Homo sapiens: one gene and its partners. The protein of the gene in region 3 purifies or fractionates together with the protein of the main gene of each other region. This does not show direct contact. Each region holds a gene or a part of one and is shown on either strand. Other genes may lie near its edges.

Region 1 (2,810 bases), on a different chromosome or scaffold from region 3:
AGATAAAAGCTATGGAAGAAAAATTAAAGATAGTGATAGATTTATCACCAAGCTCAGATGGTTCTGCAAACAAATTCTAAGAAACCGTCAGGGAACAGATCATTACTGCGTTGACACAGAAGGCAAACCTCTCAACTTGGTGTATAAGGCTAGTTAACATTGTTACTAAAACAGGCAAAGAATGGCCCCCAAAATAACTCTAAACCAGTATCACCTACAAATACAAAAACTCTATATAAAATATTAGCAAGTGAGTACAAGAGTATAAGGAACTCTATTAATGTAATTCACTGTGCTAGGTTAAGATAAAACCATAACTCTTCAGATATCATAGCTCTTTAGATAGAAAAATGTAAAAGTATTTGATAAAAATTCAACAACATTCCTGACTAAAACAAATTAAAATTGTAAAACCCCTGGAAAGCCAGGAGTAAAACATGTTCTCCATAATCTATAGCAAACATCATAGTTGCTGATAAACCATTAGAAGCATTTCCTTCAAAGTTAGGAATAAAACAAGAATTGCTACTATTGCTACTATTATTTAATCCCATATTGGAGGTTTTAGCCAACACACTATGGCAAGAAGAGGAAATGAGAAAGGTTAATGCTGCAAAAGAAGAAATAAATAAAGCTACCATTGCTGATATAATTATCTATCCAAAAAAAGTAGAAATCCATGATTAAAAGCTATTTGAACTGATAAAAGTTCAGAAAATTGGAATTGTTTCAATATACTAAAATCAATTAGTTTTCTGCACATCAGTGGGGATATATTAGATGTAATGAAAATGAAGGGTCCATTCACAATAGAAGCTATAAAGTATTTGAGAATAAATCTAACAAGATCTACATAAAGAAAAAAGTAAACTGCTTAAAAGTAATTTAAGTTCACCATTTGCAAATTGAACTAAAGAAAAATCTAAAGAAGAACTAGTGAAAATTGCTTGCAATCTTACCACTGAAAAGAAACCTCTGTTAAAATGTATCAGTATTTTAAAACTGTGTTTTGTCCTTTGGAAATATGCCATATTAAGCAAACATAGCATAAGCAAATTAAGCAAAAAGACAAACCTTTTTTTAAAAGCATATTTGTGAAAAAAGCATATTTGAAGCTATGATAAGAAACTGAGTAGAAGCTATAAAACGTAGATTCATCAGGAAGGAGCAGAAGTTGAAAAGGAGATTTCTGGCTGGGCACAGTGGCTCATGCCTGTAATCCCAGCACTTTGGGAGGCCAAGGCGGGTGGATCACTTGAGGTCAGGAGTTTGAGACAAGCCTGGCCAACATGGTGAAACCCTATCTCTACTAAAAATACAAAAATTAGAAAGGCGTGGTGGTGAGCACCTATCATCCCAGCTACTCAGGAGGCTGAGGCAGGAGAATAGCTTGATCCCGGGAGGCATAGGTTGTAGTGAGCCGACGTCATGCCACTGCACTCCAGCCTGGATGACAGAGCAAGACTCCATCTCAAAAAAAAAAAAAAAGAAAAGAAAAGAAAAGGAGATTTCTGAGTAGAAACACGTTAGCAGAGGAAACTTCATTTGGGGAACAGGATTGTTTTGATGCCATGCTCCCTCAGCTGACCACACAGATTACATCCTGGCCAGAAAAAGGCCCTGCAAAGAGCTCTGATCATTTTGGTTCTGATTCCATCCTTAGTTCTTACCCATTATCTGCTTACCCTTCCTCCCCACCTATTTAAGATACAAAGCAAAACAAACCAAAAATACAGATGAGTTGCTTGGTAGAGCTGCCTAGGCCTCCAAGGCGGGGCCCAGAGGATTTTTTGACTGAACCCCCTGTTGTGTTTTCCATATGTGCTTCCCCAGACCGCCCAGGTTTGCTGAATGTGAAGCCCATTGAAGACATTCAAGACAACCTGCTACAAGCCCTGGAGCTCCAGCTGAAGCTGAACCACCCTGAGTCCTCACAGCTGTTTGCCAAGCTGCTCCAGAAAATGACAGACCTCAGACAGATTGTCACGGAACACGTGCAGCTACTGCAGGTGATCAAGAAGACGGAGACAGACATGAGTCTTCACCCGCTCCTGCAGGAGATCTACAAGGACTTGTACTAGCAGAGAGTCCTGAGCCACTGCCAACATTTCCCTTCTTCCAGTTGCACTATTCTGAGGGAAAATCTGACACCTAAGAAATTTACTGTGAAAAAGCATTTTAAAAAGAAAAGGTTTTAGAATATGATCTATTTTATGCATATTGTTTATAAAGACACATTTACAATTTACTTTTAATATTAAAAATTACCATATTATGAAATTGCTGATAGTATTTGAAGACTGAGTCTTGTGTGTTTCCCACCCTAGCCCCCAGGCTTTCTTTTTTACCCCTTTTCCTTCTCCCCTCCCTCCCTCCATCCCTCTCACTCTTCCTCCCTCCCTTCCCTCCTTTCCTTCTTCCTTTATTTTTCTTTTCTTTCTTAGACATTTTAAAATATGTGAGTGGAACTGCTGATACACTTTCATTCTCAGTAAATTAATTTTTTACTCAATTTACAACTTTTCGGAACTCTGCATCTGCTTTAACAATCAGAACTAAGAAGGGAAGGGGAACTTCAGAATCAGAAACTGCTCAGAGCATGTGTTTTGTAGCCTGGATGTGCTGATATGCAGCATATCCCTGGGATTACCCAGAATTCAGTCTTCTTCCACAATCCTAACCGAGATTTTCACGCACCACCAGCAGCCTACTCGTATACTACCTACTAATCAATGCCACTGCGCACCCACAGAGCCAGTGGCCAGCAACTGAGCACTGCTAGAAACTCTGGGGAACACAGAACTTTTTTA
Region 2 (7,726 bases), on a different chromosome or scaffold from region 3:
CAATATAGTTATTTGCATAAGTGCAAATAAGTATCTGTTTTCTTTTGCAACAGGACACAATTGGAGAAACTGGTTATTTTATCAAGGCTTTGACTGGAATGGCATGTTTTCTTTTAAGGAATTAAACTTAACTTATAGAGCCAATAGAAGCCCCTTGGGGAACTGGCCTCATACCTTGCCTACACAGTCCTTGTACAGGATTTCTGACCTGTGGTAAGTAAAGAATGTCACTTTCTAACAGACCCAGGAACTCCAAGTTATCTTGGAACCTCAAGAAGAGAGGAATTTACCCAACTCATACGTATTTGAGGGTACAAACCCATGGCAAAAAGTCTTATCTAAGATTCCTTCTTTGGAACAGAGTTCCAGGAAAGCCAATTTAAAAAGAGCTTATGTGGCTGGCTGTGGTGGCTCACACCTGTAATACCAGCACTTCGGGAGGCCAAGGTGGGCAGATCACTTGAGGTCAGGAGTTCGAGACCAGCCTGGCCAACAAGGTGAAATCCTGTCTCTATTAAAAATACAAAAATATTAGCAGGGCACGGTGGTGGGCACCTGTAATCCCAGCTACTTGGGAGGCTGAGGCAGATGAATCGCTTGAGCCCAGGAGGCAGAGGTTGTAGTAAGCCAAGATCGTACCACTGCACTCCAGCCTGGGTGACAGAGTGAGACTCCATCTCAATAAATAAATAATAAAAAGAGCTTATGTGAAAAATAATTATTCTTGCTACACTTTATATAAATAATCAGGCCAAGTATAACAAAGCAAATCAGTCTTACCAAGATTTGCCTTTAGTAAAAATGGGAAACTGGAGAGAGAAATATAATGTTTCAAGAACTTATGGTACACTGGTTATTAGATTCTAGTCTCATCAGTTGTTTTTAAGTTTGTTTCTGCAATTTAGGCTAACCCAGCTTATTCCTGTGAACCAACCAGTGATCTCTGACTGCTGCTCAAAACAAACAAGAGTGATGGTGTCAGGTCTCTGAGCCCAAGCCTGCACGTATTCATTCAGATGGCCTGAAGCAAGTGAAGAATCACAAAAGAACTGAAAATGGCCGGTTCCTGCCTTAACTGGTGACATTACCTTGTGAAATTCCTTCTCCTGGCTCGTCCTGGCTCAGGAGCTCCCCGACTGAGCACCTTGTGACCCCCCACTTCTGCCAGCCAGAGAACAAACCCCTTTGACTGTAATTTTCCACTACCTACCCAAATCCTATAAAACGGCCCCACCGCTATCTTCCTTCGCTGACTCTCTTTTTGGACTCAGCCCGCCTGCACCCAGGTGATTAAAAAGCTTTATTGCTCACATAAAGCCTATTTGGTGGTCTCTTCACATGGACGCGCATGGAAGATGGGTAATGTAAAAATCTGAATCGATATTCTAATTCTGAACACACTGGAATCAGCTAGCAACCCCACATCAGCTTGGTTCCAACAGTTGCCCAGTTCATGGAAAGCCTTCTAATTTAGTTTACTTGGGATAATTTTACTTATTTTGCTTTACTCTTGTGGAATATATTGCTATTGTACTCTTTGTGTAGGAGTGCAGGATAAGCTTACTGAATGTTTTCTTAAACTGAATACTTATTAATCTTCCAGATATCACCTTTTGTCAGAACTTGGAGTTATGAATGGCCCTCACTATACTGATGTTTTCTGAGCTCCTCTCTACTCTGAACATAAGGGACCCTAATAGTTAAGCAGGAATATCATCACCCCTATTCAGCCTGAAGAAGTTACAGAAGATGCATCTTCATCCCTCCGAAACTTTTAGGATTAAAGTTTCTCTCATAATAGGGAGGAGGCAAATGTCAGAGGAATGTGAACCAGAGCAACTCCATCTTGAATAGGAGCTGGGTAAAATGAGGCAGAGACCTACAGGGCTGCATTCCCAGACAGTTAGGCATTCTCAGTCACAGGATGAGATAGGAGGTCAGCACAAGATACAGGTCATAAAGACCTTGCTGATAAAACAGGTTGCAGGAAAGAAGCTGGCCAAAACCCACCAAAACCAAGACGGCGATGAGCATGACCTCTGGTCATCCTCACTGCTACACTCCCACCAGCGCCATGACAGTTTATAAATGCCACGGCAATGTCAAGAAGTTACCCTATATGGTCTAAAAAGGGGAGGCATGAATAATCCACCCCTTGTTTAGTATAAAATCAAGAAATAATCATAAAAATGGGCAATCAGCAGCCCTCAGGGCTGCTCTGTCTATAGAGTAGCCATTCTTTTATTGCTTTACTTTCTTAATAAACTTGCTTTTGCTTTGCACTGTGGACTTGCCCTGAATTCTTTCTTGTGTGAGATCCAAGAACTCTCTCTTGGGATCTCGATCGGGACTGCTTTCCTGTAACATCTCCTTTTGCTTGGCAAATCTGATCCTGAAATCTTTTGGTGCTAGGTTGTGGGAAAGGTGGGAAGGACTGATTCACTTTTTCATTCTGAGCACCACCCACAAACTTTTGGGGGCTGAAATCTCAAGTTCAGGAGTTTCTCAGGGATGCTGTGGCAGTCTAGGAAGTGCTGGCCATTCCTGAGGCCCTGGCAGGGACAGTTGGGACTAGACGATGGTGGCAGGTGAGGGAGACTCAGAAGGTGTTGATTCCATATCTTGAAGATCTTCTATCCATTTTACAGATGAAACAGTCCCAGAGAGTAAATGTCATCTCTATGCAGCTGTCCCCAAATTTCTACCTTTAGCCCTGACTAGGCCCTAGGCTCCAGGCAACCTGGGTATGTCCCAGTCATCTAAAGAATAAAGGCTGGCTGCAGTGGCTCATGCCTGTAATCCCAGCACTTTGGGAGGCTGAGGCGGGTGGATCACTTGAGGTCAAGAGTTCAACATCAGCCTGGTCAACATAGTGAAAACTCATCTCTACTAAAAATAAAAAAAATTAGCCGGGCATGGTGGCAGGTGCCTGTAATCCCAGCTACTCGGGAGGCTGAAGCAGGGGAATAGCTTGAACCTGGGAGGCAGAGGTTGCAGTGAGGCCCACTGCACTTCAGCCTGGGTGACAGAGTGAAACTCCATCTCAAAAAATAAACAAAAATACACTCTTACTTCCCCAGCTCCTGGCACTTACACTGCCCCAGGCTCCTCCCTTACCCCATCTATCCATCCAGCAATGACAAAAATCCAAAATTTTCCTCTGCTCTTCCCTAGCACTTACAGCATTCCTATTGATTCTAGCCCAAATAGATCTCAAAACTGTCCCCCTCCTCTCCATCTGGAAGTTGCCTCCTAGTCTGCCTCTGTTGCTGCCACAGACTTCCCAGCATCCGCCTGTTCTGCCTTTGCCTCCACCCCCTCCCATTCCCAGTCAGCAACCTACTGGAAGTTGCAAATTCCTAATTTGGCAGCCTGCAGCTGTGATCCATAGAAGGGAATGTTTGGAATGTCTTGGGGATGGGTGGAGACTGGGTGCTCAATTGTCCCATCTGACCCCCAAGGGCCAAATTAAGACTAATGAGCTTCCAGAGGTTGTCCCTATGGCCAAGTGTTTGGCACCTCCCCATAAGGGAGGAGACCACCCCTCATATTGTCTTATGCCCAATTTCTGCCTCCAAAGAAAGAAAAAGTAAAAACTAAAAGGCAGAAATGAAATCCACAAACAGACAGCCTGGTGCCACACCCTGGGCCTGGTAAAGATCGACCCCGACCTAATCGGTTATGTTAACTATAGATTACAGACATTGTATAGAAAAGCACTGTGAAAATCCCTATCCTGTTCCAGTCTAATTACCGGTGCTTGCAGCCCCTAGTCACATACCCCCTGCTTGCTCAATCAATCATGACCCTCTCACGCACACCTCCTTAGAGCTGTGAGCCCTTAAAAGGGACAGGAATTGCCCATTCAGGGAGCTCGGCTCTTGAGACAAGAGTCTTGCCCATGCCCCTGGCCGAATAAACCCCTTCCTTCTTTAACTCGGTGTCTGAGGAGTTTCGTCTGCGGCTTGTCCTGCTACATCCATAGGGCCGCCCTTCTCTAAAGTTGTTGTAACCTTCCCCCAAGCAGGAATCCACTTCTGCTTTAGGAAGCAGTGGGAAAAAGACCATGCTTTAGAGTCAAGACAGTCCTAAATTAAAATATCGGCTCATTTAATCAATTTCTGCTTCAGTTTAACCGTCTTCAAAATGGAGATAATAATAACACTAATTACCCAAGTGGGGTACTGTGAGAATGAGCTATACAGCACATATCTCAATGCTTGGCTCACAGTAGGTGCTTAATGCAATCAATGAAAGCTATGATGTGCATTATAAGGAATCAACAGACAGCACTGTCCAGGGAAGACTAGACTCACTCATGAAGTGTTAAGTTCCCCATCAGTAGAGCGTGTGCAAGCACTTCTTGGTGCCCAAAGGATTCCAGCACCCACAACAGGTTGGCCTAACTCTTAAGGTCTCTCCAGCTTCCAGAGATCATGCTCCTCAGGGTCTGACTTCTAGTCCCCACGCTTCAAGTAACACCGACCAGGCACGTGTGCCCAGCGTGCACCCCGCCTGTCGGTCACCGCCTACTGTCAATAAAGTTGATTTGAGGCGGCTCCAGGCAGAGGGGCACGGCCACCCACACGCCACCTCAGCCCGGCCCCGCGGCCCCTCACCCGGTGGGCGGGTGGGCGGGTCACGCAGCCGGCGCGCCTTGCCATTGGCCCGCGCCGGTGGAGGCGGGGCCTGCTCACGTCTGCCGGCCCCTCTGTTGTCGTTTGGCAGCGGATAGAGGACACGACCAAGATGGCGGCGGTGTCTGGCTTGGTGCGGAGACCCCTTCGGGAGGTAGGCAGCAGCGCGCGGCCTGTATTCCCACGCGACCCCTGCCCACCCTGCGTCCCGCCGTCATCTTCCTCTCTCCCTGCCAGGTCTCCGGGCTGCTGAAGAGGCGCTTTCACTGGACCGCGCCGGCTGCGCTGCAGGTAACAGGCGCGGGTGCTCGTCGGACGAGGGCGGGGAGGGTCCCCCCTTCTCTCGGGAAGGAGGCCGGAGTCGCGCCTGCGCTGTGGCCTTCCGGCGCCGTGGGCCTTGGGTTTGCGGAGCCAGCATCCTCCGTGGAGCTCCTGCTGCCTCTGTCGCCGCCTGGCAATTAGCACACCGGCGAGTCACCACCTCACAGCTGGCTGGGCAATGGGGGAAAACTAAGACTAGGCGTTTCCTCCCTCACTCCATGTTTTTTTCTTTAAATTGCAGCAAAATAGACCTAACTTAAAATGTACTTTTTAGAAGTGTATAATTCAGTGGCATTAAGTACATTCACCATGTTGTACAACCATTAACCACCATCCATTTCCAGAACTTTTTAATCATCCCAAGCAGAAACTGTCCATTACTCGGTAACTCCTCATTTCCCTTCCCCAAACCCCTGGTAACCCCTGTTGTACTTTTCTGTCTTTATGAGGTTGCCTATTCTAGAACTTCTTATAAGTGGCATCATTTGTCCTTTTGTGTCTGGCTTATCTCAGCGTAATGTCCTCAAGGTTCATCCATGTTGTAGCATGCGTCAGAGTTTGATTCTTTCCTAAGGCTGAATAATATATATATGTATATTTTTTTGAGATAGTCTCCCTCTGTCACCCAGGTTGGAGTGCAGTGGCGCGATCTCAGCTCACTGCAACCTCCACCTCCTGGGCTCAAGGGATTCTCGCGCCTCACACTCCTGAGTAGCTGTGATTAGATGCCGGTGCCACCACACCGGGCTAATTTTTGTATTTTTAGTACAGACAGGGTCTCACCATATTGCCCAGGCTGGTCTTGAACTCCTGGCCTCAAGTGATCTGCCTGCCTTGGCCTCCCAAAGTGCTAGGATTACAGGCATGAGCCACCTCGCTCAGCCCGACATTTTCTTTTTTTTTTTTGAGACGGAGTTTTGCTCTTGCTGCCCAGGCTAGAGTGCAGTGGCACTATCTCAGCTCACTGCAATCTCTGCCTCCTGGGTTCAAGCAATTCTGCCTCAGCCTCCCGAGTAGCTGGGATTACAGGCACCCGCCACCACACCCGGCCAATTTTTGTATTTTTAGTAGAGAATGGGTTTCACCATGTTGGCCAGGGTGGTCTCGAACTCCTGACCTCAAGTGATCCACCTGCCTTGGCCTCCCAGAGTGCTGGAATTACAGGTGTGAGCCACCGTGCCTGGCCTTGTTTTGTCTATTGTGAGTAATGCTGCTGTGAACATTGATGTGCAAGTATATGCTTGAATCCCTGCTTTCAATTATTTGGGGCATATACATAGAAGTGGAATTGATGGATTGTATGTTAATTCTCCTCTCCTTCCTTTTTTTAACTAGATTTTACCATTCATTATATTAAAAGAGCAACTCCTACATTCTGGATGCAAAGTATTTGGCAGTACTTGGCACCTAGTGAGCACTCAGTACATTAACACATGCAAAGACCAACTATGTGTAATAGAAATGTTACTTTTAGAATTCTTTGAGTTTTTAGAGAGAAGCTTGTTCTAGTGTTTTTATATTGTATGCTGTGGGCAGCCTAGGTAAATATAAAGGAAGAAAATCTTAGTTGAATCCCAAACAATTCTGTATTGACTGTTTTTGCATACCTGTGACAGGTGACAGTTCGTGATGCTATAAATCAGGGTATGGATGAGGAGCTGGAAAGAGATGAGAAGGTATTTCTGCTTGGAGAAGAAGTTGCCCAGTATGATGGGGCATACAAGGTAACTAAAATATATGAAAGTTATACAAAATTGAGGTCACTGTTACCCCCAGATACACTTAAGGGATCAACTCTTAATTGTAGGTTAGTCGAGGGCTGTGGAAGAAATATGGAGACAAGAGGATTATTGACACTCCCATATCAGAGGTAAGCCTTCCAGTGGGAAGCAGACCCTGGAGGGCATGTCTGTTAGTGTCCATTATCCTCATTTTTATGGATTTTCACTTATGTTTATATTTTACTTTATAGATGGGCTTTGCTGGAATTGCTGTAGGTGCAGCTATGGTATGTAATACTCTTTATGAAACTTATCCAAAGACATTTCTTGTTTTCTTTTTTTTTCTTTTGAGACAGAGTCTCACTCTGTTGTCCAGCCTGGAGTGCACTGGCACCATCTCAGCTTCCAGGTTCAAGCAATTCTCCTGCCTCAGCCTCCATAGTGGCTGGGGTTACAGGTCGCGCCACTGTGCCTAGCCAATTTTTGTGTTTTTAGTAGAGATGGGGTTTTACCATGTTGGCCAGGCTGGTCTTGAACTCCTGGCCTCAAGTGATCCGACCGCCTTGGCCTCCCAAAGTGCTGGGATTACAGGCGTGAGCCACTGTGCCCATCCCCAAAGAGATTTAACATCACCTTTTAAAAACATCATTTGGGAAAAAAAAAAAATACCAAGTAGGTAGATGTGGTGGTGCTTGCCTGCAGTCCCAGCTACTCGGGATGCTGAGGAAGGATTACTTGAGCCTAGGAGTTAGAGGCTGCAGTGAGCTATGATGTGTGCCACTGCACTCCAGCATGGGTGACAGTGAGACCCTGTCCATAAAAAATAAAAATAAAAAATAAAAACATTATTTGAATGTTGGAAGACTTGGAGTGATTTGTTTGCTACTGTTTGTTGCTGTTTCTAGTCTTTTTAACATCCACGTTTTTGATTTTACAGGCTGGGTTGCGGCCCATTTGTGAATTTATGACCTTCAATTTCTCCATGCAAGCCATTGACCAGGTTATAAACTCAGCTGCCAAGACCTACTACATGTCTGGTGGCCTTCA
Region 3 (7,035 bases):
AGCCTGGGCGACAGAGCTAGACTCTGTCTAAAAAAAAAAAAAAAAAAGTATCCATCATGTGCCAGGCTCGGTGGCTTACGCCTGTAATCCCAGCACTTTGGGAGGCTGAGACAGGCAGATCACTTGAGGTCAAGAGTTCGAGACCAGCCTGGCCAACATGGCAAGACCCTGTCTCTACTAAAAATACAAAAATTAGCTGGGCATGGTGGCGCATGCCTGTAATCCCAGCTACTTAGGAGGCTGAGGCAGGAGAATTGCTTGAACCCGGGGTTAAAGGTTGCAGTGAGCCGAGAGCACCACTGCACTCCAGCCAAGGCAACAGAGCAAGACTCCATCTCAAAAAAAAAAAAGTATCCATTATGAAATACGTAAGACACAGGGGATGTGGAACACAAGGGCGCCTGTGTATCAATAACCCAGGCTAAGAAAGTAAACATGTCCACAGTTACAACCACCACCGCAGGCCCACCCCACCCTCCCAGCGACAGCCCGTCTCCACCACACTGGGACTATTAATCCCTTCCCATCACCTTCTCAACAGCCCAGCGTCCTTGCTTGAGCTGAGTCAGAAGATGCGCGCACCAGCATGTCTTGGTCGAGCTCCTGGCTGGCCCCTGAGGGCCACGTCACTCTGACCCCAGCCCTGACCCATGGGATGCACAAGCTGGGACAGACAAAAGCAACTCTATGTAGCCAGGAACAGCCCAGAGCTAGAACTCAGAAATATGGCTCCAATCTCACTGCAGGTATCGAGCAGGAAGAGGATCATCCAGGCACGGACAGATCCGAGGTGTCTGCACGGCTACCTCGGGTATCCTGCCCAGCCACAGGGAGGGTGGTGGTGATCCCAACACCTGGGCCCAGCCTTCCTATGCAAGGGACCCACTTAGGGCTCTCCTGGAAATTTGCAGAAGCTTTTAGGAAGGAGGCCAGGGAGACGGGAAGCAATTTCCCTACTCCACTGGAGGCAGCTGAGCCTTCCCTGGCAAAAGCAGATCAATAGTCTGTGTTTCTGCTGAGTGAACTTGACAAATGGGACTGAGAAGACACTGCATGATAGATCCAAACCCAACCTGAATCCAAACCTAATCCGCCACCATGCACAGGAAACAGAAAAGCCAGGCACGGGATCAGAAATACTGTCGACAGTCTAAGGACTTGGGTAGGAATAACCGCCCAAAATCTTCCGTTTCCATTCTCAGAAGGAGCTGCCCTTCTTCTAGGGCCAGTCTGGGATAGATTCAGATGAGGGGAAATTCTCTTAGAATTATCCTGTCAGTATTGGCTGGGCACCGTGGCTCACGCCTATAATCCTAGCACTTTGGGAGGCCGAGGCAGGCAGATCACTCGAGGCTAGAGGTTGCAACCAGCCTGGACAACACGGCACAACCCTGTATCTACTAAAACTACAAAAAAAAAAAATTAGCCAGGCATGGTGGTGCATGTCTGTAGTCCCAGCTACTGAGGAGGCTGAGGCATGAGAATAGTTTGAACCTGAGAGGCAGAGGTCGCAGTGAGATGAGATCGTGCCACTGCACTCCAGCCTGGGCAATAATAAATAAACAAACAAACAAACAAACATTTAGAATTATCCTGCAAGTATTTACATAATAGCTGCAATATTCAGGCATTGTGCTGGTCTCAGTGTACACAAAGCACTGACAGTGCAGGGTTAGGAAGAGAGCTTAAATAGCTACAATAGAATTCTAAAAAAATCAGCTGGGCGTGGTGGCCTGCACCTGTAGTCCCAGCTATGCGGGAGACTGAGGCACAAGAATTTCTTGAAGCTGGGAAGCAGAGGCTGCAGTGAGCCGAAATCATGCCACTGTGCTCCAGCCTGGGCGACAGAGCAAGATTGTCTCAAAAAAAAGAAAAGAAAAAGAAAGAAAAGAAAAGAAGAAAGGTCTAAAATCAATGACCTAAGGTCTACCTTAAGAAATCAGATTAAAAAGAGTAAAGGAAAAAGCAGTTTGACACCCCTTGTTCTCACTAAGATGAGGTGTTACATTTCTGGGGTCAGTCTGGAATGGGACATATTAATAGATGGGCCATGTCCCATGACTCCTCAAATTGTACCTGGGGATAGTTCCTTTCAAGCTAATTTGATTTTTTAATTTCCCCACATCTTTATCATGGGAGCCATTGGCGAACTACAGACCTAGGATACAGGAGAATTTTCTACTGTCACCCCTTCCCCCAGGCCCACATCCTATCCGTGAGGCTCAAGAAGGCCCACTTTGGAAGTTCCACCTCTCCCAGCCTGGTTCAACCAGAAGACTTCCAATCCAAGTCCTCCCTCTGGTTAGGGAGCACTGTTCATATTTACCTATTTGTGTCGATATTTACAGAATACATACCATTAAGGAGAGAATACTGGTTAATAAAGTACAGGAGTTTTATGATATATCTCTAGTTGAGATCCAGTTCTGTAATTTACAGGCAACCTAGGCCAAGTTACTTGTTCTCTTTGAACCTCACTTTTACCATCTGCAAAAGGGGGGATAACACAACTGTTCACTTCATAGGCTTGTTGAGAGGGTTGAATTAAATAATGTGTGCCAAGTGTGACCCACGGCAGGGGCTCAATCACCGGGAGCCATTGCTTCTACCAGGCTTTGGGCAAAGTGCTGAGGAGATGGACACTGACCCAGCTCTACCCTCTAGGAGTCCATAGAATGTTCCTCACTCCCACCCTCCGGATGCACACTGCCTCCACCGCGCCTCACCTTGGATCCTCAGGCTCTCCTGGTACTGGATGATGAAGTACTCCTGAGTCTGCTGCAGTTTCTTCAGCTCATTCTCTGTGTCCTGCGTGACCAGTCGCAGCTCCTCAAATGTCTGGTTGATCTGAAGGTGCTTCTGGGACATGGCGTCAACCAGGATCCCAGCCGGAGAGCTGCACTGGAGACAGATGGAATGGAAATAACTCGGGGAAGAGAGGATGGGAGAAGACCACAGGCATTAGGAAACACCAATACTACAGACCCCAAACCCCAAACCCCAAACTAGGGTAAGAAGGGAAACTAGGGCAAGAAGGAAGGATCATTTGCATCAGAAGGAGTCATTTGCCAGAATTGGGATAGAAAAGGGAAAGAGAAAGGAGAAACAGGTGACCTGGCAGATAACGGCAGATAGTAACACCTTCAAAGTCCAAATATCTATGTCAGAGCTGCCCTCCACTAGAGTATTCCAAACAGGGTCCATCTAATTTCCTCCCAGGGACTAGAACTCAACACGTCCCAGGTGTCACCTGGGTTTTCCCACTAATGATGATGACCCCTCGCTCTACATTTATTTGCTGACTCAATACCATGGACTGCAGTAGATCCTAGGGACATAGGGAGGAACAGGGCTGTGTGAACACACACCATCTCACTTAAGACCCCCTTGTGACTGAAGGAAGAGGGAAGAGGCCGAAACTCTCACAGGCATCCTGGAGACCCCGAAATGAAGTTAGAGGGGAGGCATCAACAAGCTCCCCTTGGATCCAGCCATTCCTTCAGCACATTCAGGAGAATCGCTTGAACCCAGGAGGGGGATGTTGCAGTGAGCCGAGATTGCGCCACTGCACTCTAGCCTTGGCAACACAGCGAGACTCCGTTTCAAAAAAAAAAAAAATAGAGAGAGAGGGGTAGAAACCAGGTCACAAAGGGAGGGAGCACATGGATGAAGAGGAACAAGTCCTCAGAGGCTTTCCAATGAACTGTTCTCAGAATAAAATCCAAACCCCTTCCCATGGTGTCTGCTGGCCATAGCCCTGCCTACCTCCAACCCCAGCTCGCTGGGAATGTGTGCTTTCTGTTTCTGTTCCTTGAACACACAGGCATGTTCCTGCCCTGGGGCCCTTGCACTTATTGTTCCAACAGTCTGGAACATTCTGGCATCAGATCCTCCTGAGGCAAAGCACTTTAACTGGTACCATTGCAGAGGGGTCATCTCTGACGAGCCAATTCACAGTAGTCCTATCTAAAAGTGTGTTGTTCTTGTATTTGCTTACATGTTTCTGTCTGTCTCCCTGCACAAGGATGTGAGGTTCCCAAGGGCTAGGACCTTGCCTTTCCTGTGAACTACAGAATCCCCAAGCCCTAGAATGCCAGGGGTGTTCAGGAACAGTTGTATGGTTGGAGGAAGGAATGAGCTCCCAGACCATGACAGCACCAGCACCATGGACATGGATTTGTCAATGAGGCTGAAGTCATTTTTAGGTTTGCAGATAGCTCTGTGATGGCAACAAGTCAGGGACACAGGGGCTGTGCTGGAAGACCCTTTGTGACCTGGTTTCTAACCCCTATTTTTTTTTTTTTTATACAGAGTCTCGCTCTGTTGCCCAGGCTGGAGTGAAGTGGTGCAATCTCAGCTCACTGCAACATCCCCCTCCTGGGTTCAAGCAATTCTCCTGCCTCAGCCGCCCGAGTAGCTAGGATTACAGGCGCCCGCCACCACGCCTAGCTAATTTTTGTATTTTTTAGTAGAGACTGGGTTTCACCATGTTGGCCAGGCTGGTCTCGAACTTCTGACGTCAGGTGATCCGCCCACCTTGGCCTCCCAAAGTGCTGGGATTACAGATGTGAGCCACCACGCCTGGCCCTCTCTATCTATTTTTATCCATGGCAACTCCCCACTTGGTTCCTTCTCCCCAGTTACACTGACCACTTACAAGTCTTCCAATGTGATAAGAAGATTCATGCCCTCCTGCTCTCGCAGCTGCTGTCTTTTCATTAGAAAATTCATCCCTCCTCTCCTGCCTTTCTCCACTGTAGCTCAGACATGCCTGTCCACAGGACGCTCCCCTGCCAGCCTGCCCCAATCTGAGTTGGGTGCTTTTTCCACCTAGGCCCCCTTAGCACTCAGCTCATCTCTAGAGAATCCATCACTGCCAGAATTCCTTCCAGGCAAGAACCAGGCCTTTATGTGTTTCTCTGATGATAGCCCAGCATCGGACACACAGTAAGACCTCAATAAATGTCTACTGAGTAAATCCTGAAATCCATGTCCACAACAATAAATACGTAATAGGCCGGGCGTGGTGGCTCATGCCTGTAATCCCAGCACTTCGGGAGGCCGAGGCAGGTGGATCACTTGAAGTCAGGAATTCGAGACCAGCCTGGCCAACAGGGTGAAACCCTGTCTCTACTAAAAATACAAAAATTAGCCGGGCATGGTGGTGGGCCCCTGTAATCCTAGCTACTTGGGAGGCTGAGGCATGAGAATCTCTTGAACCCAAGGGGTGGAGGTTGCAGTGAGCCGAGATCACGCCACTGCACTCCAGCCTAGATGATAGAGTGAGACTCAGTCTCAAAAATAAATAAACAAACAAACAAATAAAGAAAGAAATAATAAATATGACCTGTGCTCCGGTCACTGTTCTAAGATTTCTGTCACGTCATGTTGTGAAATTCATTTTGCTCTATTGCAGATAGTACAGCACTGTGCCATTGTCCATGTAGATGCCCAGTGCCTTTATTATTTCAGAACTGGGGAGATGTGTCCCTGTTACCCCTCCCTGGGCCTCACTTCTCTGAGCCTGCCTGTGTTAGTTCTTCTGACACAGATAGGTATGATTGCTATCTCCATTTTACAAGAGTAGGAACAGGCCGGGCACGGTGGCTCACGCCTGTAATCCCAACACTTTGGGAGGCCGAGGCGGGTGGATCATGAGGTCAGGAGTTCAAGACCAGCCTGGCCAACATAGTGAAACCACGTCTCTACTAAAAATACAAAAAAAATTAGCCGGGCATGGTGGTGGGCACCTGTAATCCCAGCTACTCGGGAGGCTGAGGCAAGAGAATTGCTTGAACCTGGGAGGCAGAGGTTGCAGTGAGCAGAGATCACATCACTGCACTCCAGCCTGGGCAACAGAGCAAGACTGCATCTCGGGGGGGAAAAAACAGTAGGCGCCAAGCGTGGTGGCTCACGCCTGTAACCCCAGTACTTTGGGAGGCCGAGGTGGGCGGATCACGAGGTCAGGTTGAGACCATCCTGGCTAACACAGTGAAACCCCATCTCTGCTAAAAATACAAAAAATTAACCGGGCATGGTGGTGGGCGCCTGTAGCCCCAGCTACTCGGGAGGCTGAGGCAGGAGAATGGTGTGAACCTGGAAGGCAGAGCTTGCAGTGAGCCGAGATCACGCCACTGCACTGCAGCCTGGGTGACAGAGCAAGAATCCGTCTCAAAAAAAAGAAAAAAGAAAAAAGAAAAAAAAACAGGAACAGAGGCTCAGAGAGATTAAGCAACTTGCTCAAGTCACACAGCTAGTAAGTGGTAGAGCCAGGGACTGGATCCAGGGGGTCACTCCACCCCGGCGTGCAATGCTGCCACCTCTTACACTTGCCCACGTCCCTCATCTTCTTGGTGCTCTCCTCGTGCTGCTGTTTTATATAAACACAGTTGTTTCTGGAGAGAAAGGCATATGGAGGGACTTCTCAACACTCCTCCCCATCCCCAAGGGACACTCACATTGTTGGCTTCTCGGACCAGCCTCTGTTCATTGTACAGAATGTGCCGGATGCAGCGGACCAGCTCCAGGGGGCAGCGGTCATATGTTTTCTGAAAGAATCCAACAGTAGCCTCCAGCGCCATCCTCTGCTCCAGCCATGCCAGCCCCATGCTATGCCCAGCCCTTCCTCTCCTTCAGCCTCTGCCTCAGCTTTTCCCAGGGAGCCTCAGGAACTATCCCCAGACACCTCTATATCTCTGTTCCTCATCCTCATCTTCCCCTCCAAGATCTTCATATCTGGTTTGGAGCGAATTAAAAACCCACAGTTTATGAGGCACTTTCTCTTTTTTTTTTTTTTCTTTTTGAGATGGAGTTTTGCTCTTGTTGCCTAGGCTAAAGGTGCAATGGTGTGATCTCAGCTCACTGCAACCTCCACCTCCCGGGTTCAAGCGATTCTCCTTCCTCAGCCTCCTGAGTAGTTGGGATTACAGGCATGTGCCATCACGCTCGGCTAATTTTGTATTTTTAGTAGAGGCGGGGTTTCTCCACGTTGGTCAGGCTGGTCTCGAACTCCCGACCTCAGGTGATCCACCCGCC
Region 4 (7,035 bases), on a different chromosome or scaffold from region 3:
TCTATTATGTGTTGTTTTTTTTTAAACCTAGGTTTTATTTTTCCTTTTGAAATGGAGTCTTGCTCAGCCGCCCAGGCTGGAGCAGTGGTGTAATCTCAGCTCACTGCAACCTCCACCCCCGGGTTCAAGCAATTCTCCTGCCTCAGCCTCCCGAGTAGCTGGGAATATAGTTACGTGCCACCATGCCCAACCATTTTTTGTATTTTTAGTAGAGACGGGGTTTCACCATCTTGTCCAGGATGGTCTCGATCTGTGGACCTCGTGATCTGCCCAAAGTGCTGGGATTACAGGCGTGAGCCACCACGCCCGGCCAGGTTTTATTTTTTAACTCTTGAATGCAGAAATGTTAGTGCTTACTGGTTAAAATAGAACATAGTATTTATATATTACTTTAGTGCTTTATTGAAAATATCGGAGGTGGGATAAACAGAGAGATAGGGTTGGAAGGAGAGTTTGTAGCAGCAGTGTAATTTCTGTGTCAGATTCTGGCCAGGAGTGAAAATGCAGGGCATTAATTAGTATCTCCCCTCATGGATTTCTGTGGTTCCTTTCTCGGTTGTCCTTAATGTTAGGTGCCCCTGGGCGCTGGGATTGCTCTAGCCTGTAAGTATAATGGAAAAGATGAGGTCTGCCTGACTTTATATGGCGATGGTGCTGCTAACCAGGTAATTATGTCTCTTAACTTCCCAAAAACAGTCTTATTTTCAAAGTCTTTAATATTTACAGTTGAATTTCTAAAGAAGTAGCATATTGCTTATTAGGTGAAATAGCAAGTCCTATGGCTAGCTCAAATTTGGTTGACTTATGGCCAGATTAGAGATTGACCTCTTAGCGTTGTTTCACAAGAGACTTACGGGGGCACATTCCTGTGAAGGAGCTCACCTTTGCTCTACATCAGTGCTTGGCAAAGGCCCTGTGGTAAAGGACCTCCCCACAACCTATTGCAAAACAATACAGACCCATTCTCTTGGATGTCCGGGCTGGCAGTGTCAAATTCGGATAATAGCGTCTGAGTCCTAACTCAGTTTCTATGCTTCTCTTGTTACCGAGTAATCCCCAGTCTGTGGCCAGCACTCTGTGAAGCCCTGTTCTAGAGGCTGATTCTTAGGTGCTGGTTCACTCTGGCTATCCAGTGGGCCTGATAGATTTCATATTGATCTTTTTTCCAGTGTGTTCCTTACTGCTAGCATGGCCCCAAAGAAACAAGTAGTAGTTGGTTTGTCACCTTCCTTAGTTGCAAGAGTATGATGCCTGCTACTTCTCCTCCACCACCCACCCCGCTTTCCCTCACCACCCAAAGCTCGGTTTTAGAAGAGGAGGCTTTCTGTGCTTTATGAAAGCTTTCTGTGCCAGGCAGAGCAGCAGCTGTTAGAGATGATGAAGCCTGGAGAAAGAAGCCAAATGAAACCCCTTTTCGTAACTACTTCCAGGGCCAGATATTCGAAGCTTACAACATGGCAGCTTTGTGGAAATTACCTTGTATTTTCATCTGTGAGAATAATCGCTATGGAATGGGAACGTCTGTTGAGAGAGCGGCAGCCAGCACTGATTACTACAAGAGAGGCGATTTCATTCCTGGGCTGAGAGTAAGGACACCTGTGGTGGGGCCGGGGCCAAGGCCAAGGCCAAGGGTATGTCCTTGTGCAGACCCTTGACGATCTTAGAAACATTGGAGAGTTTCATTCTCATACAGGAGCAGGTCATGTGAAAGTAAAATGGTTTGGGGCAGTTGGATTCATGCTTCGCCCCTCCCCTGTTTATTACCAGGTGGATGGAATGGATATCCTGTGCGTCCGAGAGGCAACAAGGTTTGCTGCTGCCTATTGTAGATCTGGGAAGGTAAGGCTCTAAAGCCCTCTGGGCTAGTGACATTTATCTCTGGAAGTTCAAAGACTGCCTCCCATGTGCCTGCTGAAGCTGTTAGTGGGTACCTGCTAATTGAGGTGCATGAGATGGAAGCAGAGTGAAGGGAGCAGGGCTCCTTTGGGTAGCTTGGTCTTGGTAGCTCACCTGCTGGGAAGCCTACGTTTCTCTCATTTGGGGGAAGTCCGTTCTGGTGCTTCCTCTGCTTTGGCCTGTCTTCATGACAACTGATTTGCCTTTTCCTTAGGTTAATTCTGTCCCTCCTCCCCACCCCCCATTAATCATGAGTCCCTTGAAGGAACAGATTGGGGATCCCCACAGTGTCCAGCATAGAATGTCATGTATACAATAGGCATTTAATATGTGTGTCTTATACAAATTAAACAGTATGGTAGAAGCTCGTAATCTTAGTCTTGCTCAGTCCTAAGGATCTTTCCCTTTTCAGTGTATGGCAGTGAGGGAGATGGTAAGAGGGAGACTGGCCTAAAGAGGTTTCACTTCCTTTGGCACTAGTATAGGCTTAGGAGGTTTGGGTGTTCTCCCTAAATCAGTGTTCTACAGCCCAGAAACAAGGTTTCTGAAGTTGGCACTTCAGCGCCATACCATGTACGTTTAGGCAGTGATGTGAATCAGATGTGGCCAGCAATGATGGAAATGTCACAAAGTGGAGAGACAGGGAAGTGAGGGTGGGAATGTAGTAACATTAAATAAGAGCTAATGAGTAGAATGAACTAGAGCAGGACCAAGACTACAGCTTGGGTACAATGGGCTGAGCAGTCTATGTCAGGACCCTAAGGCTGGGAGTGCCAGGCCCTGAGTGATGGGTATTGACGCCACCTCTCCCAATTCCTGAAAAGAATACATGGGGGCCAGCCCTGGCTGGAGACAAGGGGAGTTGTAGAATGTAGTTGTAGAATGTGTGACTTTCCCAAACAGATAACCTTCACAATTCTGAGTTAGGTGTTATTGTTTTGCCCATTTTGCAGACAAGGAAACTGAGCCATAGAGCAGTTAAAGGTACACAGCTACTCTGTCTTGGAGCCAGCTCCCCACTCGCCCATTTTAACTGCTGCACCAAACCAACCAAGGATCCTCAATGTTTCTCCACCCCAGTGTTCAGAGCCGTCTCCTGGAAGTGGGCTAGTGTAGAATGAGCGAGCCCAACTGTCCAGACTCCCAGCAGAGCCTTGGGGTTTGGGTAGCAGAGGTTGTTGGTGCCTGCCAACTTTGTTACACACTAGCAAGGTCTGTGAAGTAGGAGTGGCTGCCAGCCCCACAACACACCATGAGAAAGGAGCATGAGATGGAAATCTGTCTAGCCAATAGCAGGAGGCTCTAGAACATGCTCAGAGCCTTTTTCTTTTTTCACAGGGTCTCGCGCAGTGGCACACTCACAGCTCACTGCACCCTTGACCTTCCAGAATCAGGTGATCCTCCCAAGTAGCTGGGACTACAGGCGCACGCCACCATGCCTGGCTAATTTTTGTATTTTTTGATAGAGATGGGGTTTTGCCATGTTGTCCAGGCTAGTCTCGAACTCCTGGGCGCAAGTGCTCTGCCCACCTCAGCTTCCCAAAGTGCTGGGATTACAGGCATGAGCCACCATGCCTGGCCTTCAAAGCCTTTTTGATTCAAAACAAGCTGTTGGCAGATTGCCTTATTAAAAATGAGAAAGATGAAATATGCAATCAATACTTGCTAGAAATGAGAACAGATCAGTCAACCAATAAGAAATTCGTGACAACTCAGAAGATCTGATAAGACTACACTGGACGCTTAATAAAGGGCCTGCGTTTGAGGCCGTGGATTGCCGGCCTGTTCTTCCAGTCATCGTTCCTAACTAACTAACTGCCTACCGGTTCTGTTTTAGGGGCCCATCCTGATGGAGCTGCAGACTTACCGTTACCACGGACACAGTATGAGTGACCCTGGAGTCAGGTACGCTCATGGGCAGTGTGGTTTCCATAGGGGTGGGCTTTGAATGGTGTTACATGGCAAAAGCAACACATTTCAGTATTTGCTTTTGGAGCTAGATACCAGTTCACTTCATGTACGCAGTTGTGTTGGGCATCAAGTTATCTGAAAGCAGTGCCTCCTAATAAGAAAGCTTTCTGAAAATGCCTACAGTGTATAGTGTGTGTGAGCACAAGCAGCAATTTTTAAAGAAAGAGTGTTATATACCTTAATTGTAGAGGGAAATTGTTACATAAAACAGGGCTGATGGTAGTGTAGTATCTTGGGGGCATTTAGCTTTTGTAGGCATTACCCCAAGTCTACACCTGGCATACTCTACCTGAAGAGGATCAGAATTTGGAGATGTTCCTCTGTCTGGTATAGAGCTAAGGGTAACTGGGTGTTCAATCCGTTGAAATACATCAATCAAAAAAGCTAGGTTCCACTAGGAAGGCATGAATTTTACTTTTTTGCTTAGTAGCTCTGGCCTGTGATTCTGGAATCCCAGTTTTGACACAGTTGAATAAATAAGCCTTTGTAGAGTGGACTTCTAAGGAAAAATCATGTAGAGAGCACAGTATATGGAAAAATGCACTTTGTGTAAATCTATTGTTGAAAATGGTAGAATCCTTTTAGTGTTACTTCAGATGATATAGGCATAAGATACATTGGTTTTGCTGGCTGTGCTTCTTTAGGGGGACTTAAGGGAGAAAGGCAAGGCACATGGATTTCCTGCTTGGCGCTCTGATGTCTCAAAGTCTAATTATCACCACACACACCATCTCTGCTGTCCCCACCCATGTAGTATACAGGAGCCCAAATGGGTGGGACAAGTGACACTTCTTTAGAACCTTACATCTAAATCAAAGCAGCAAGCAAAAACTTGGCCCCTGTTGTCGGAATGCCAGGGAAGCCATGTGACTCACCAGTGTACGGTTTTCTAGAAAAGACAGAAGCAGTTATTACAGAATGTTAGGCTGCGTTCTGGTATTTTGAAAGTATAACAACAACTCTGCCACGCCTATAGTGACATAAGCATTGGTATGCCCCTTTGTTTCAGAAACACACTTCTGTATTTCACCTCATTGGGACAATCCAACCCCATATCATGTTTCATCACGCCGTCCTTGCTCTACTGGAACTGCTCTTACTGATCGATTACTACTTTTCCCTCCCCATAGTTACCGTACACGAGAAGAAATTCAGGAAGTAAGAAGTAAGAGTGACCCTATTATGCTTCTCAAGGACAGGATGGTGAACAGCAATCTTGCCAGTGTGGAAGAACTAAAGGTACAGTCACTTGTTCATGGTGGTTTGAAGGTTGGCTTTAAAAGTTGCCACCCCTGGGTGGCCACAGAGTTTGTGTGGGTTCCTCCAAGCCCAGAAAGTGATGTCCTGGGACATAAATAGTTCCATAGTTCCAAAGTCCCTTGGGGTGGGGGCTTTTCCTTTAGTTTCCTCTATTCAAAATTGTATTACTCTTCAGATTTCAGATTTTGGTGGACTGTGAACCACCATCACAGTGGCAAAGCCCCCACAGTAGTATGGTTCTTTTTTCCTAAAAGTATACTGTGGATTTTTAATTCATAAAATAGATACACCCTAGAAATCTGTATTCCAAAATCTTCTGAATTAGCAACTGTTCGTACTTGTAGTTAAAGAGTTACACCAGCAACAGGTCCTCAGCAGAACTCTAGTTGGTACCTAAGCTGCTGTTCATTCTAAAACCTTTTACACTGTTACCTAATTTTTAGGAAATTGATGTGGAAGTGAGGAAGGAGATTGAGGATGCTGCCCAGTTTGCCACGGCCGATCCTGAGCCACCTTTGGAAGAGCTGGGCTACCACATCTACTCCAGCGACCCACCTTTTGAAGTTCGTGGTGCCAATCAGTGGATCAAGTTTAAGTCAGTCAGTTAAGGGGAGGAGAAGGAGAGGTTATACCTTCAGGGGGCTACCAGACAGTGTTCTCAACTTGGTTAAGGAGGAAGAAAACCCAGTCAATGAAATTCAATGAAATTCTTGGAAACTTCCATTAAGTGTGTAGATTGAGCAGGTAGTAATTGCATGCAGTTTGTACATTAGTGCATTAAAAGATGAATTATTGAGTGCTTAAAGATTATTTTTGACTTAAAATAGTATACTTTGAACAAATACTCTAATTATGAAAAGGAAGAACAATTCCTTGTATGCCTGTTTCCCCTGCCCCCAGCCACCTTTTTGGGAGGAGACCATTATGGCGGGGCCCCTCACAGCATTCTACCAACCATAGCACCCACCCCGAGCAGCGCTGGTGCTGCAGCCTGTTCGCGCTGACCATTTCTCTACAAGATACAATATTTATTATCAGGCAAGAGGACAGTTCCATTTTAAAATAAGACTTTTGTAATCATTCCAATTTTGTAATCATTTCAAAGGCCACATAACTTAGTTTTCTCTACTTACACATTCAGTATAAATATGAAGCTATTTTCTGTTCATATCAAACATTAACTACAAGGCACATTCGTATCAGTTTTGTGTTTCTCAAATTGAAGTACCATACCAGTTCTGAGGCAGTGTCCCAGCTTCCATGTTTGTTAAATACCCCTTGTTTGTTTCACCATTCCAGCAAGTGCTGAAGGGTGTACTTTTTTTGAGACAGGGTCGGGCTCTGTTGCCCAGGCTGGAGTGCAGTGGTGTGATCATGGCTCACTGCAGCCTCCACACCTCCTGGGCTCAAGCAATCCTCCCACCTCAGCCTCCTGCATAGCTGGGACTACAAGTGAATTTCCTAATATTCCGGGAGGTCAAAACCAAGGCTCACTGTTTTCACAATACACACAGTTCTATGTTTATAAATAACAGGTTTCAAAAGAAACTCAGGACAGTATTTAAAACAAGTTCTTAAACTATTAATTGAACAATGGCATTTTTAAATATGTAAACACAGCGGAATTCGTGTATACACTAACAGAAGCTTTAACAAAACATGTAGCGTGGTGGGACACTCTGCCACAGCTTAGCTGATTGGTATCAAGCCTTGTCTTTGGTTTCTGAGGCCTCCTGAGCCCTTCTGTACTGGGAGACCGCACTCCAGAGTCTGCAGAGGAGACCACCCCTGGGAAACAAACACAGCTGTCTTCAGAGTCAGTGCTTCAAGCCAACAGAGCTTAAAACTGCAGTCCCTAATTTAAAAACCTAATGAAAATAAAAACATTCTCCTCACATATGGAGGTGA

Evidence for each region.
Region 1: the proteins of STAT5A (region 3) and PPARG purify together in Homo sapiens (affinity purification with western blotting; 2 studies listed by BioGRID). This does not show direct contact.
Region 2: the proteins of STAT5A (region 3) and PDHB purify together in Homo sapiens (affinity purification with mass spectrometry; 3 studies listed by BioGRID and IntAct, with this or other methods). This does not show direct contact.
Region 4: the proteins of STAT5A (region 3) and PDHA1 purify together in Homo sapiens (affinity purification with mass spectrometry; 3 studies listed by BioGRID and IntAct, with this or other methods). This does not show direct contact.

The regions. Positions count from the first base shown.
Region 1 is NC_000003.12:12,432,065-12,434,874, forward strand, and holds the end of PPARG (peroxisome proliferator-activated receptor gamma), read left to right. Parts: intron 1-1,833; coding exon 1,834-2,081; 3' UTR 2,082-2,280; downstream 2,281-2,810. UniProt on the Homo sapiens protein: Nuclear receptor that binds peroxisome proliferators such as hypolipidemic drugs and fatty acids.
Region 2 is NC_000003.12:58,430,833-58,438,558, reverse strand, and holds the start of PDHB (pyruvate dehydrogenase E1 component subunit beta, mitochondrial isoform 1 precursor), read left to right. Parts: upstream 1-4,726; 5' UTR 4,727-4,749; coding exon 4,750-4,791; exon of another isoform or gene 4,792-4,874; coding exon 4,875-4,928; exon of another isoform or gene 4,929-4,964; intron 4,965-6,574; coding exon 6,575-6,682; intron 6,683-6,765; coding exon 6,766-6,828; intron 6,829-6,930; coding exon 6,931-6,966; intron 6,967-7,616; coding exon 7,617-7,726. UniProt on the Homo sapiens protein: The pyruvate dehydrogenase complex catalyzes the overall conversion of pyruvate to acetyl-CoA and CO(2), and thereby links the glycolytic pathway to the tricarboxylic cycle.
Region 3 is NC_000017.11:42,291,485-42,298,519, reverse strand, and holds part of STAT5A (signal transducer and activator of transcription 5A), read right to left. Parts: intron 6,549-7,035; coding exon 6,459-6,548; intron 2,902-6,458; coding exon 2,727-2,901; intron 1-2,726. UniProt on the Homo sapiens protein: Carries out a dual function: signal transduction and activation of transcription. Mediates cellular responses to the cytokine KITLG/SCF and other growth factors. Mediates cellular responses to ERBB4.
Region 4 is NC_000023.11:19,353,919-19,360,953, forward strand, and holds part of PDHA1 (pyruvate dehydrogenase E1 component subunit alpha, somatic form, mitochondrial isoform 1 precursor), read left to right. Parts: intron 1-572; coding exon 573-665; intron 666-1,430; coding exon 1,431-1,586; intron 1,587-1,767; coding exon 1,768-1,839; intron 1,840-3,733; coding exon 3,734-3,801; intron 3,802-4,997; coding exon 4,998-5,106; intron 5,107-5,570; coding exon 5,571-5,735; 3' UTR 5,736-6,830; coding exon of another isoform or gene 6,831-6,915; 3' UTR 6,916-7,035. Other genes in the region: MAP3K15 (mitogen-activated protein kinase kinase kinase 15), read right to left, coding at 6,831-6,915. UniProt on the Homo sapiens protein: The pyruvate dehydrogenase complex catalyzes the overall conversion of pyruvate to acetyl-CoA and CO(2), and thereby links the glycolytic pathway to the tricarboxylic cycle.